3 separate regions of the Homo sapiens genome follow, and regions 1 and 2 are each reported to be linked to region 3. Evidence: microRNA targets listed by miRTarBase, many of them from high-throughput screens and not tested one by one. Region 3 holds a microRNA gene; each other region holds the end of a gene's coding sequence.

Region 1 (4,244 bases), not on the chromosome of region 3:
AAAAATTAAAGAATTTCTGTAAAAGCAGAAGCAAAGAGCTCGTGAAAACAGAAGTGTTCTAAGTGTAAGTTTTGCAATCATTCCTATTACCATAAAGTACAAGAAACTTTGGTTCGTTTCTGCTCTCCCCCAATTAGCTCTGTGATTGAAAAAAACAAAAAACAACAAAAAAAATTTATCTGGCTTTACTTGTCCTTTGACATACTTATTACAATTGTAGTTATGCTTTCATTTTGTCTGTTCCTTCTCTACTGGTCTGAGATATTTCAGTGTCAGGACTATGTATTCACAGTTCCATACCTGGCATATAAGTTGTTCACTGACTAAAATGCATGTTTTTGTTAATCTGCGAATTGAAGCAGTTGGATTAAATTTTCCATGTCCCTTCTTTGTTTCTGTGATATATATTTACTTTGAATTACCTAAGCCTAGGCAGTTAATTTTTCCCTTAATTTCTAGCCTTTTATTGCTCATTAATCCTCTTTCTAAATAAGGACATGTGTCCTAATTCAATTTGAAAATAAAGTAGTACAAGTAGCTACTGTGGTACTAAGTAAGTTTAGACAGGAAATGCTTCTCTGAGGGAGTGCCATAGAGTTTGCTGTTGAAGCCAATCAACTCCTACCTCTTGAAGTTACGGTTTGCATCTAAAAAATAAATTTAAAAACTACAAAGGCAAGTAAAGGCAAATCAAACTTAAGAACAATTTCTAAATGGAGAATCTGATGCTCTAAGTTTCACAAATGAAGCATAATAAAGTTTTGCTGGTGAACCTACTAAGCCCAGGAACATAATCCAGCTCTCCATGGTTGTCCTTTGTACCAACAGAACTCCAGTAACCTCAGTGAGAAGAGTCATGGCCCTGCAGTTGACTATCCACATTTCTTTAATGTAAGTCAAAGCCCATCACAATGCATCCTGTTACAATGGAAATCTTATTTTTGGAAGTCCACTTAATTATTTTGAGCAACATTATATACAACCCAACAGATACAATTAATTGACAACTTGTTGAAATGTTAGAGTTAAACCACAAAGAGTAACTGAGTAATGTTGACAACCCCAATATTTATTCTCATACTGTGCTCAACATTAGATGATCTATAAAATTCAACTGGCAAAGGGAGATCAAAGAATTGTGCTTCATCTTGAGCTTGAATTGGATGACAAGGAGATTAGGAAATCCTAAGTGGAAAAATATTCAAATCATTGTGCTTTCTATATATTTTTCTTACCACCTATTTCCAGTTATAAACCTTACATCTGTGCCTCTGCATACCATTTAAGTACAATACTAAACATTCTTTAAAATCATTTTCTACTAACTATAAAAGGTACACTCAGATAACTGTAAAATCATTTCCGTTTAGAAGAAAAGCATCAAATATTCAGGGAACTTTATTTTTAAAGAATAAATCAAGTAAGACACAGCTTTCGTTTACCTAAACATGCATAATCCAACCTGAATATAAACTGCACTTAATTGGTGAATTACACATGAAATACAAAGGGAATGCAATTTTACATATGTAAAATGATTGCTAGCTATAGCAATTTAACAGTCAAATTTATCAGAACATTGTACATTAAAAAACACAAACAACAACTTAAAGCCAAATATCTATAGTAAACCAAGGAAAATTCTGATATGGAATGGTTTGACTAAAAGCAAAGAATAAGGCACCTGCTATGAATTTAGCACAACCATAAAACAGAATTAGTTAACCAAGACACTTGTTTCAAAAAGGGAAACAAGTACAGAGACTGATTAACTGGGTGAGAAAGGCAAGTAACAATTTAGTTAAAAACCTGCTGGCCCAAGGTCAGTTGATTCATTCCTTATTCCAGAATAGTTAAGTTCCTGAAAGTCCTTAACCACTCTGCTCCCTTACTGTTCTCCATGTTTGAGGGTATCAGAAGCCCCCTGTGAGGTTCACGCTGTGTATAGACTAGGTAGCAGATTTCCCTTCTGTTCCTCTTAAAACAGCTTATTTTAAAAGAAATATCCTGAGGCAATTAACAAAGCAAACACAAGCAGCTTTCTTTCCAACGCATTAATACATAGACACTGCTCAGGTTTTTTTTCACCAAGTTATGGCTAAGTATACAAATAGCCAATACTTGCAGTTTTCAACAGTACTAGAAAACCCAAAACCTGCCCTATGACCCTCACCCTTACCATTAGTAAAACGTAAATTTGATCAATCATAACCTATAAAGTCATATAACAAAGGGAAGACTAAAGACTGATCATTATCAGTAAATCCATTCAATTCCAGATGCCACTTTAGGCTGATGTGTCTAGTACCCTAATGATTGAAAAATCATTAATCTAGAAAAAGCATTTGCAAACTAAGGATAACTTCGCAGTTGATGTGCCTTTTTTTGCTATTAAAAGTGCTATTTAACATGCTAAAATGTCTTATGGCACATTGGACTCAACAGCATGTTCTGATGAGGCATCCATTTTTAGCAGTATTTTTCCCTAGAATTTTGTTTGGCATAGTAAACCCCTTTGATATATTAAAATAGTTCTGGTGAAATAAATGTAACATAAACAAACCTTCCCTGACTGACTTCACTCCACCACGGTAGCTTTTAGTGAAACCACAGTAACTGATTAAGTCAGAAAACGATCAAGTTTTTTTTTTATGGCATCTTGGGTTACTATACTCACTCATGCAAAATCCAAGGTAGTGTAATGGAAACAATATTGGTAAAATAGATGTTGTGGCTATAAGCATCTCCCTTTATATTAGACATTTAGAAGCTTTTAAAACTTTTTAGATGCTAAAGGTTGTGGCAAAACTAGGCTGTGTAGTTGTTCCATTTATAAGCACCTTATTACAGGACAGTTACATGAACCTATAAGGGAGTGTGCTTTCAGTTCAAAAGAGTAATAAAGTGCCTAGCTATATAAAAACCACAAGACTTCAAATTGTAATTTAAGCTAACTGCAGTTATACATTTGGGTTAACAAAATCTAGACCCTGTCTATGCAGAGTTAGACTAATTGTTCATACTGTTTTAATAACCACATAAAAAAACTTACTCTTAATTGACTGAATAAGTAGGGTCCACTACTGTATCTTAACAATCAAATTTTATTGCTTTATTCATGTGGTGTTTTTTGCAAGGCACTGTGGTATGGACTAGAAAACTTGGAATGACTCATGAAGAAACCTTGGAATGACACATGAAGCATGATAGGAAAGTCATTCTGAGGCAGGATGCTTTACTGAATTGTTTTCAACCAGGGTATCAAACATCAGGAATGAGTTCAAGTTAAAATTCACAGGAGAATGGAAACATCTTAAGGTCAGTCACTTCACATGCCCATCCTGATACTTTGAATAATCTGGAAAATTGCTGTAAAAAGAAAGAGCAAATATTAAAATAAGCTTTGAATAAAATAGGTCTGGTGTCTAACAAATATTTATTAAGGTAGCTGAAGAATCCAAAGGTACTCTTACATTTGCAAATGGTACATAACTTCAGTATAATAAGAAGTGAAGACAGGCCTGTCTGAATAAATAAAACAATGAAATATCCCTGAGTTATTTTTTTATCTTAGCTTCGCTGAACTTTATGTCTAAGTATCCAAGAGAACTTGCAGATAAGTAATCATTTTACAAAGAACTTAAAGCACCAAAGCCAACAGGTTTTTCCAGCATAGAATTATTTTGGTTTATAAGCATCCTTTTAAGGCCTGGCCTGTAACACATGCATGTTTCCTCATTCTCACAAAGCTGAAATTCAATCATCTTCAGGTTATATAAACTGCTTGGCTCTCATCCATTTATCAGGAAAGCTTCCAATTGGTAAGTGAAGAAGAAAGGCAAAGTGAAACGTTAAACAGAAATCTCAGTAATTTTAGAATGTGGAAAACAAACATCTACTTCAATATTAACAGCTTGCATATTAAAATGATAAATGAAGAGAGGAAAGACCTTTTTTTTGTAATCTATTTGCAAAGGCAAGTGTCTGTTACTCTTAGGGGACAGCAGGCTACCCCGACACTTTTTTTTTAAACCATGTATCAAACGTTTCTTTTATTAACCTAAAAACATTTGACTCACACATTAAAATGCCAATCAGGTAATTTCCTCTATAGTGAATCAATTCTTTGCACAAGCTTTATTTTATAAAATATACTCAATTTTGACATTAAGACATTAGATTCTGGTATATGTTAAATCAAGTTCTAACATCTATAGTACATATTTATAATTTTCTTTGCAAAG
Region 2 (4,244 bases), not on the chromosome of region 3:
CCAGATGCAGCCCCTCCCTGGTCGACTGGAGCTTCCAGGATCCCGAGAAGCAGGTGAGGGACCTGAGGACCTGGCTGATGGAGGTCCCCTCCTCTACCGGCCCCGAGGCCCCCTGACTGACCCTGGGGCATCCCCCAGCAATGGCTGCCAGGACTCCACAGACACAGAAAGCAACCACGAAGATCGGGTTGCGGGGGTGGTATCCCTCCCTCAGGGTCCCCCACCCCAGCCACCTCCCACCATTGTGGTGGGCCGGCACAGTCCTGCCTACGCCAAAGAGGACCCCAAGCCACAGGAGGGGTTATTGCGGGGCACCCCAGGCCCCTCCAAGGAAGTGCTTCGGGTGGTGGGCGAGAGTGGTGAGCCTGTGAAGGCCTTCAAGTGTGAGCACTGCCGTATCCTCTTCCTGGACCACGTCATGTTCACTATCCACATGGGCTGCCATGGCTTCAGAGACCCTTTTGAGTGCAACATCTGTGGTTATCACAGCCAGGACCGGTACGAATTCTCTTCCCACATTGTCCGGGGGGAGCATAAGGTGGGCTAGCAACCTCTCCCTCTCTCCTCAGTCCACCACTCCACTGCCCTGACTACAGGCATTGATCCCTGTCCCCACCATTTCCCAAGGAGTTTTGCTTTGTAGCCCTCACTACTGGCCACCTGACCTCACACCTGACCCTGACCCCTCCTCACCTATTCTCTTCCTCTATCCTGACCGATGTAAGCATTGTGATGAAACAGATCTTTTGCTTATGTTTTTCCTTTTTATCTTCTCTCATCCCAGCATACTGAGTTATTTATTAATTAGTTGATTTATTTTTGCCTTTTTAAATTTTAACTTATATCAGTCACTTGCCACTCCCCCACCCTCCTGTCCACAACTCCTTTCCACTTTAGGCCAATTTTTCTCTCTTAGATCTTCCAGCAGCCCCAGGGGTAGGAAGCTCCTCTTAGTACTAAGAGACTTCAAGCTTCTTGCTTTAAGTCCTCACCCTTTACATTATCTAATTCTTCAGTTTTGATGCTGATACCTGCCCCCGGCCCTACCTTAGCTCTGTGGCATTATATCTCCTCTCTGGGACTCTTCAACCTGGTACTCCATACCTCTTGTGCCCTCTCACTTTAGGCAGCTTGCACTATTCTTGAATGAATGAAGAATTATTTCCTCATTTGGAAGTAGGAGGGACTGAAGAAATTCTCCCCAGGCACTGTGGGACTGAGAGTCCTATTCCCCTAGTAATAGGTCATATTCCCCTAGTAATATGAGTTCTCAAAGCCTACATTCAGGATCTCCCTCTAGGATGTGATAGATCTGGTCCCTCTCCTTGAACTACCCCTCCACACGCTCTAGTCCCTTCAACCTACCGGTCTATTAAGTGGTGGCTTTTCTCTCCTTGGAGTGCCCCAATTTTATATTCTCAGGGGCCAAGGCTAGGTCTGCAACCCTCTGTCTCTGACAGATTGGGAGCCACAGGTGCCTAATTGGGAACCAGGGCATGGGAAAGGAGTGGGTCAAAATTCTTCTCTTTCTCCTCCACCTCTCAAACTTCTTCACTATAGTGACCTTCCTAGGCTCTCAGGGGCTCCTTCAGTCCCCATCCTATGAGAAACTAGTGGGTTGCTGCCTGATGACAAGGGGTTGTTTCAGCCCCTCAGTCATGCTGCCTTCTGCTGCTCCCTCCCAGCAGGATTCACCCTCTCATTCCCGGGCTCCTGGGCCCTGTTCTTAGGATCAGTGGCAGGGAGAAACGGGTATCTCTTTTCTCTCTTCTAATTTTCAGTATAACCAAAAATTATCCCAGCATGAGCACGGGCACGTGCCCTTCACCCCATTCCACCCTTGTTCCAGCAAGACTGGGATGGGTACAACTGAACTGGGGTCTTCCTTTACTACCCCCTTCTACACTCAGCTCCCAGACACAGGGTAGGAGGGGGGACTGCTGGCTACTGCAGAGACCCTTGGCTATTTGAGTAACCTAGGATTAGTGAGAAGGGGCAGAAGGAGATACAACTCCACTGCAAGTGGAGGTTTCTTTCTACAAGAGTTTTCTGCCCAAGGCCACAGCCATCCCACTCTCTGCTTCCTTGAGATTCAAACCAAAGGCTGTTTTTCTATGTTTAAAGAAAAAAAAAAGTAAAAACCAAACACAACACCTCACAAGTTGTAACTCTTGGTCCTTCTCTCTCTCCTTTTCTCTTCCCTTCCTTCCCCTTCCATCTTTCTTTCCACATGTCCTTTCCTTATTGGCTCTTTTACCTCCTACTTTTCTCACTCCCTATCAGGGATATTTTGGGGGGGGATGGTAAAGGGTGGGCTAAGGAACAGACCCTGGGATTAGGGCCTTAAGGGCTCTGAGAGGAGTCTACCTTGCCTTCTTATGGGAAGGGAGACCCTAAAAAACTTTCTCCTCTTTGTCCTCCTTTTTCTCCCCCACTCTGAGGTTTCCCCAAGAGAACCAGATTGGCAGGGAGAAGCATTGTGGGGCAATTGTTCCTCCTTGACAATGTAGCAATAAATAGATGCTGCCAAGGGCAGAAAATGGGGAGGTTAGCTCAGAGCAGAGTAGTCTCTAGAGAAAGGAAGAATCCTCAACGGCACCCTGGGGTGCTAGCTCCTTTTTAGAATGTCAGCAGAGCTGAGATTAATATCTGGGCTTTTCCTGAACTATTCTGGTTATTGAGCCCTTCCTGTTAGACCTACCGCCTCCCACCTCTTCTGTGTCTGCTGTGTATTTGGTGACACTTCATAAGGACTAGTCCCTTCTGGGGTATCAGAGCCTTAGGGTGCCCCCATCCCCTTCCCCAGTCAACTGTGGCACCTGTAACCTCCCGGAACATGAAGGACTATGCTCTGAGGCTATACTCTGTGCCCATGAGAGCAGAGACTGGAAGGGCAAGACCAGGTGCTAAGGAGGGGAGAGGGGGCATCCTGTCTCTCTCCAGACCATCACTGCACTTTAACCAGGGTCTTAGGTACAAAATCCTACTTTTCAGAGCCTTCCAGCTCTGGAACCTCAAACATCCTCATGCTCTCTCCCAGCTCCTTTTGCATAAAAAAAAAAGTAAAGAAAAAGAAAAAAAAATACACACACACTGAAACCCACATGGAGAAAAGAGGTGTTTCCTTTTATATTGCTATTCAAAATCAATACCACCAACAAAATATTTCTAAGTAGACACTTTTCCAGACCTTTGTTTTTTTGTGTCAGTGTCCAAGCTGCAGATAGGATTTTGTAATACTTCTGGCAGCTTCTTTCCTTGTGTACATAATATATATATATACATATATATATATATTTTTAATCAGAAGTTATGAAGAACAAAAAGAAAAAATAAACACAGAAGCAAGTGCAATACCACCTCTCTTCTCCCTCTCTCCTAGGGTTTCCTTTGTAGCCTATGTTTGGTGTCTCTTTTGACCTTTACCCCTTCACCTCCTCCTCTCTTCTTCTGATTCCCCTCCCCCCCTTTTTTAAAGAGTTTTTCTCCTTTCTCAAGGGGAGTTAAACTAGCTTTTGAGACTTATTGCAAAGCATTTTGTATATGTAATATATTGTAAGTAAATATTTGTGTAACGGAGATATACTACTGTAAGTTTTGTACTGTACTGGCTGAAAGTCTGTTATAAATAAACATGAGTAATTTAACACCTCTGGTTGTTTTTGCAGACTTCCTTTGCCTTGCTTTTCTACTAAGAGGGAGGGGTCCTCCTTGCAGTATGTTATACCAACTACTGAACAGTTTAGGAGGTAAACAAAAACGAAGAATTTTCAGCCTAGACTGGGAAATGGAGGAGATTTTCCTACCAGGAAGGAGTGCCTTCAGGATAGGAGAGAAAGTCTGACTTGCCTGTCTACCCAAAGTAGAAATTAATCAAACATTTGTTGAGTACCTACTGTGCACAAAACACATTCTATGCCCAGGGTGAAATAATGCGAATGATGACAATCATAGGGTCTACCACTGCTTGAGCATCTCATAAATGCTAAGTACTCATTGAATTGTAGAAACACCTACAAAAGGATGATCACAATTATTGGTAAAAAAATAAAAGCCCAAGAGAGAATAAATACCTTATCCAAGGCTCATCAGCCAGTAAGTGACAGAACCAGAATTTGAACCCAGGGGTGTGTGATCCAAAGCATGTGCTCATCGCTTTATGCCAGGGAATGCAGCCAGTGAAACCCCTAAGCTAGAAAAATCCAAAGTAGGAACATAAATTTGTTTCTGTCTTAAATAGTAAC
Region 3 (4,244 bases):
ATATAGCAAATCAAAAGTAAAATAAAGTATGTCTGTCATGCTCCTGAATTTCCTTGGGTCCGAACTTAAGAGAACCCAGATAATTATACCACTAGGCTCTGGAAGTACTAGAAAGCCACAGTTGAGAGGGACGCTATTCCCTTGTTTATTTATGTATTTATTTAGAGACAGAGTCTCACTCTGTCACCCAGGCTGGTGTGCCGTGGCACAATCTCGGCTCACTGCAACCTCTGCCTCCCGGGTTCATGCGATTCTCGTGCCTCAGCCTCCCAAGTAGCTAGCATTACAGGTGTATGCCACCATGCCACGCTGATATTTGTATTTTAGTAGAGATAGGGTTAGGCCATGTTGGCCAGGCTGATCTTGAACTCCTGGCCTCTAGTGATCCGCCTACCTCGGCCTCCCAAAGTGCTGGGATTACTGGCAGGAGCCACTGTGCCCAGCCCATTCCCTTGTTTTAAAACAGACACTCATGACTTGGAAATGGATTTACATACTGAATGAACAGTGACACACTCCTGTTCCCTGACCCCACGAAGTGGCAAAGTAGGACTACAAGGCCCAATCCAGAGGCTCTGGTCATTTATCCAGCTTATGAATATTTACTGAATACTTGTACTGTGCCAGGTGTTATGATAGGTGTTTGGGGGAACAACATTAATTCTAAAAGGGAAACACACAGGTGACTTCAATACCCATCTGGTTGGCATTAAGATAGAGGTAAGTAAAGCCACCCTGAACTCCCAGATTGGGTACTCGGAGAACAGGCTGCGGCCCAACCTGGGGGGGTTCAGTGACTTCCTGGAGACAATGGCAGAGTTGAGTCCTAATGCGTTAGTCATCTGTAAAGAATAAGAAGAACCTTCTAAGCAGGGGAACAACATGAGTCCTGTGGCACGAAACAGCATGATGTGGCCAGAAACCAAAAACAATCTGCTCCTCCTGAAACCTAACTTTTGAAGTAGAGTGGTGGAGATGAGGCTGGTGAACAATGCAGGGACTCAGTGTGGGAAACCCAGGAGTTTGAACTTGAATCTCCAGTATAAACAAATTGTAGGTGGTAGAGTGCCTTGGTCAGACCTGCATTTAAGACAGATCAGGGGCCAGGCTCGGTGGCTCATGACTGTAATCCCAAATCAGGCTGGCTTCTCTGAGACAGATGGAGTCATGGAAACCAGTTAAGATGCTACTGCAGCTGTCCAGGTAAAAGCCATGAGCCTGAACATGATGCAGTACCAGGGATAGAAATGGAGGGGGTGTGGACAGCAAATTTAAGAACTGTTTTTAAGAGCTAAAATCAGAAACATTACATGATTTATTAATAATCACTCCCTTTCTTAATATCCTTTGATAGCTCTACTACTGCCTGCATACAACCTATAGCCAATAGGACTCGCAGTGGGTGGGTGGTGGCAGAGGTGGTAAAAGAGAGGTGCTGAAGATGATTTTCAGTCAGAAGGAAAGAGCTGAGAGGGCGATCAGAGGAAGAAAAGAACTTTTTCCACTGCTACAACCTCCCAGAATCCCTTCCTCTGTCTTTCCTAGAGCTGAAGACCTTCACCACAGTGAAATAACTAGAAATCAGCAACATTCCTTTGTCCTTGGGCTAGAACAGGGGTGAGCAATCTGCTCCACAGCTTGTTTTTATAACCAAAGTTTTGTTGGAACATGGCTGTAGCCATTTGTTTATGTATCATCATCCATGGCTGCTTCTTGCTAAAATGACAGTGTAGTTGTGACAGAAATCATATGGCTCACAAAGCCTAAAACATATACTGTCTGGCACTTTATAGAAAAAGTTTGCCAACTCCTGAGCTAGAAAATTGATGGGAAAGGTTTAAGAAAAGATTCATCGGACCCCAAATCTCCACATCCAGAGCCCTTGGAAATCCAACAAGGCTAGTAGACTTAAAAAACAAATCAGTCATTCAGATGAGGCCTTGGCGTAGAACTCTTTAACCTAACTGCTACTAAAGCCAAACTGAAATGCTCTTAGGAAAAGGATGTTTTGGTGATGAGGGAAAGTAAGGGAGATTTAGAGCATCGGCACCACTTGGTGGGTTTTTAGACAGTCTTGCTTGTTTGTTTCTGGACAGATGGAGAATGGCTTCACTGATAAATTCCATTGCAATGTCACTGGGGGCTAAGGCTGCACTTCCTCCCCAAAGCCCAACATTCTTCATTCAACTGGACTCATTCTTGCTTCCTGAAATGCTCAGAGTGACAATGTGGAGAATGAAACCCTGATGACTGGGCTCTGTGACAACTCATAGGAAAATCGGGGGGTGGAATATTTTATGGGAAATGGCCCAACACCAGCAGTAGGAAGCAAACAGAAGGTGAGAACAGACTAGACCTATGTATGGCAGTGGCAATTAATAAATACAACAGTTATACCATAATACATTTATTTCATTTGTCTTATAACGCATAATTATTTCTTCTTTTTTCAATTCAGGTAGTTTGAGCTGTTTCCTGGTTTAGAGTCTTATCAGTCAAACCTAACACACTTTCTCGTTTTATGACTGCTGTATTAGGGTTCTCCAGAGAAAAAGAACCAATAGGATACACCTCCCTCTTGAAAGATTCATCAGAAGCTATTTGCTCTGTGATTATGGAGGCTGAGGAGTCCCATCATCTGCCCTCTGCAAGCTGGAGACCCAGGAAAGCTGGTGTTGCAGATCAAAGGGCTGAGAGCAGAGAGCTGATGGTGTAGATACCAGTCCAAGTCTGAAGGTCTGAGAACCAGGAGTGCTGAGGGCACAAGATTCATAGCCCAGCTCAAGATTGAATTCAAAGAGTGAATTCAATCTTCCTCTGCCACTTTGTTCTATTTAGGCCCTGAATGGATTGGATGATGCTCACCCAACTGGACCCATATCTACTTTACTCCGTTCACCAATTCAAAATGCTAACCTCTTTCAGAAACACCCACACAGACACTCCAATAAAATATTTAACTAGATATGTAGGAATCCTGTATCTTAGTCAAGTTGACATGAAATTAACCATCACAACTACATAATAAAAACCAGTGATAATCAGCATATCAGTAATTATGCAAAATAGTTAGATTCACCTTACCATAGACAACAACCTATTGATGGCTACTGCCCGCTGCTGGGCTTCTATATGAGGCATTTCATTCTGAATTACTTGGTCTGTGATTCCATGAGGGAACTGGTGACATAATTCTATAATCCTAGAAACAAAGGTATTAATGTTATCCTTCATGGTTACCTGTTTCAAGAGACAGTGGGGGTAAAAATACAAGTAGAATAGTTTGAAACTGTGCCTTTTTCACATTTGGCAGACAATCTGGGTTTCTGTGATGGTTTTGGATCAAAGCATGTTAGAAATTGAAGAAGATGATTTCTAAATACATGTTTACAGTATTATTGTTATTTAAGAATATTTCTTTTCCTCACTAATAAGAACTTTAAATTAGAGCAAAAGTCTAATGAAATCACAGAAAAAATATTAAAGCTGAGACTTCAGTTTTCTCGGGTGTAATAAGCATGACAAAGTTAAGCCATAAATCTGCAAGCAGGAGGCAAATGCAGATGTTTCTGGTAGGAAGCCAAAATTTGTTATGACAATTCACCATAATGGGGCCTGTTTTTGGAATTATACCTACCAAACAAAAAAAGTCAAAATCTTCACCTAGTCGACATCAACAAATGTATTATTCCTAACAGTCTGAGAAAGTTGAGTCTTTTAAAACTACGTGAAAATCTAAGAGTGGCAGTGCCTCGGTAAAATATAAAACTGGGCCGGGCGCGGTGGCTCACGCCTGTAATCCCAGCACTTTGGGAGGCCGAGGCGGGCGGATCACGAGGTCAGGAGATCGAGACCATCCCAGACAACATGGTGAAACCCCGTCTCTACTAAAACATAAAAAATTAGCTGGGCGTGGTGGCGCGAGCCTGTAGTCCCAGCTACTCGGGAGGCTAAGGCAGGGGAATCGCTTGAACCCGGGAGGCGGAGATTGCAGTGAACCGAGATCGCGCCACTGCACTCCAGCCTGGCGACAGAGCGAGACTCTGTCTCACAAACAAACAAATAAAAATAAAAGTGGCAGAGGCTTTGGGTGTCCTAAAAGTCTTGAGTTCAATACTGCACTGAAACCACCTGGCTTAATGTTACTTCGTAATCACCAACTGCGCCCTAACTCCGCCTAAACGTTTTGTCATAGACGTTCCCTTAGTGACAAGAGCGATCCTGGATCAGAACATGTATTCACA

Evidence for each region. The annotated mature microRNA hsa-miR-3192-3p reads CUCUGAUCGCCCUCUCAGCUC and lies in region 3 at 1,464-1,484, opposite strand. An mRNA with a match to its seed (bases 2 to 7 or 8) in the 3' UTR can be bound and repressed. Matches are read on the target gene's strand: a 7mer-m8 pairs with bases 2 to 8, a 7mer-A1 pairs with bases 2 to 7 and ends in A, and an 8mer does both.
Region 1: the mRNA of SERP1 is a reported target of hsa-miR-3192-3p. Seed matches in the 3' UTR shown: 7mer-A1 at 2,450-2,456 and 7mer-A1 at 1,642-1,648.
Region 2: the mRNA of IKZF4 is a reported target of hsa-miR-3192-3p. Seed matches in the 3' UTR shown: 7mer-A1 at 3,303-3,309.

Annotation. Positions count from the first base shown.
Region 1 is chr3:150,541,130-150,545,373 of GRCh38, forward strand. SERP1 (stress associated endoplasmic reticulum protein 1) reads right to left here. Exons shown (of 3, transcript NM_014445.4): 3 at 869-3,369. The coding sequence ends at 3,329. Among named protein-coding and RNA genes, the nearest start is that of SERP1, 3.2 kb to the right of the region's middle.
Region 2 is chr12:56,034,785-56,039,028 of GRCh38, forward strand. It overlaps IKZF4 (IKAROS family zinc finger 4), which reads left to right. Exons shown (of 8, transcript NM_022465.4): 8 at 1-3,651. The coding sequence ends at 547. Among named protein-coding and RNA genes, the nearest start is that of RPS26, 5.0 kb to the right of the region's middle.
Region 3 is chr20:18,467,902-18,472,145 of GRCh38, reverse strand. MIR3192 (microRNA 3192) reads right to left here and starts at 1,531; the gene lies at 1,455-1,531. POLR3F (RNA polymerase III subunit F) reads right to left here. Exons shown (of 9, transcript NM_006466.4): 2 at 3,085-3,202.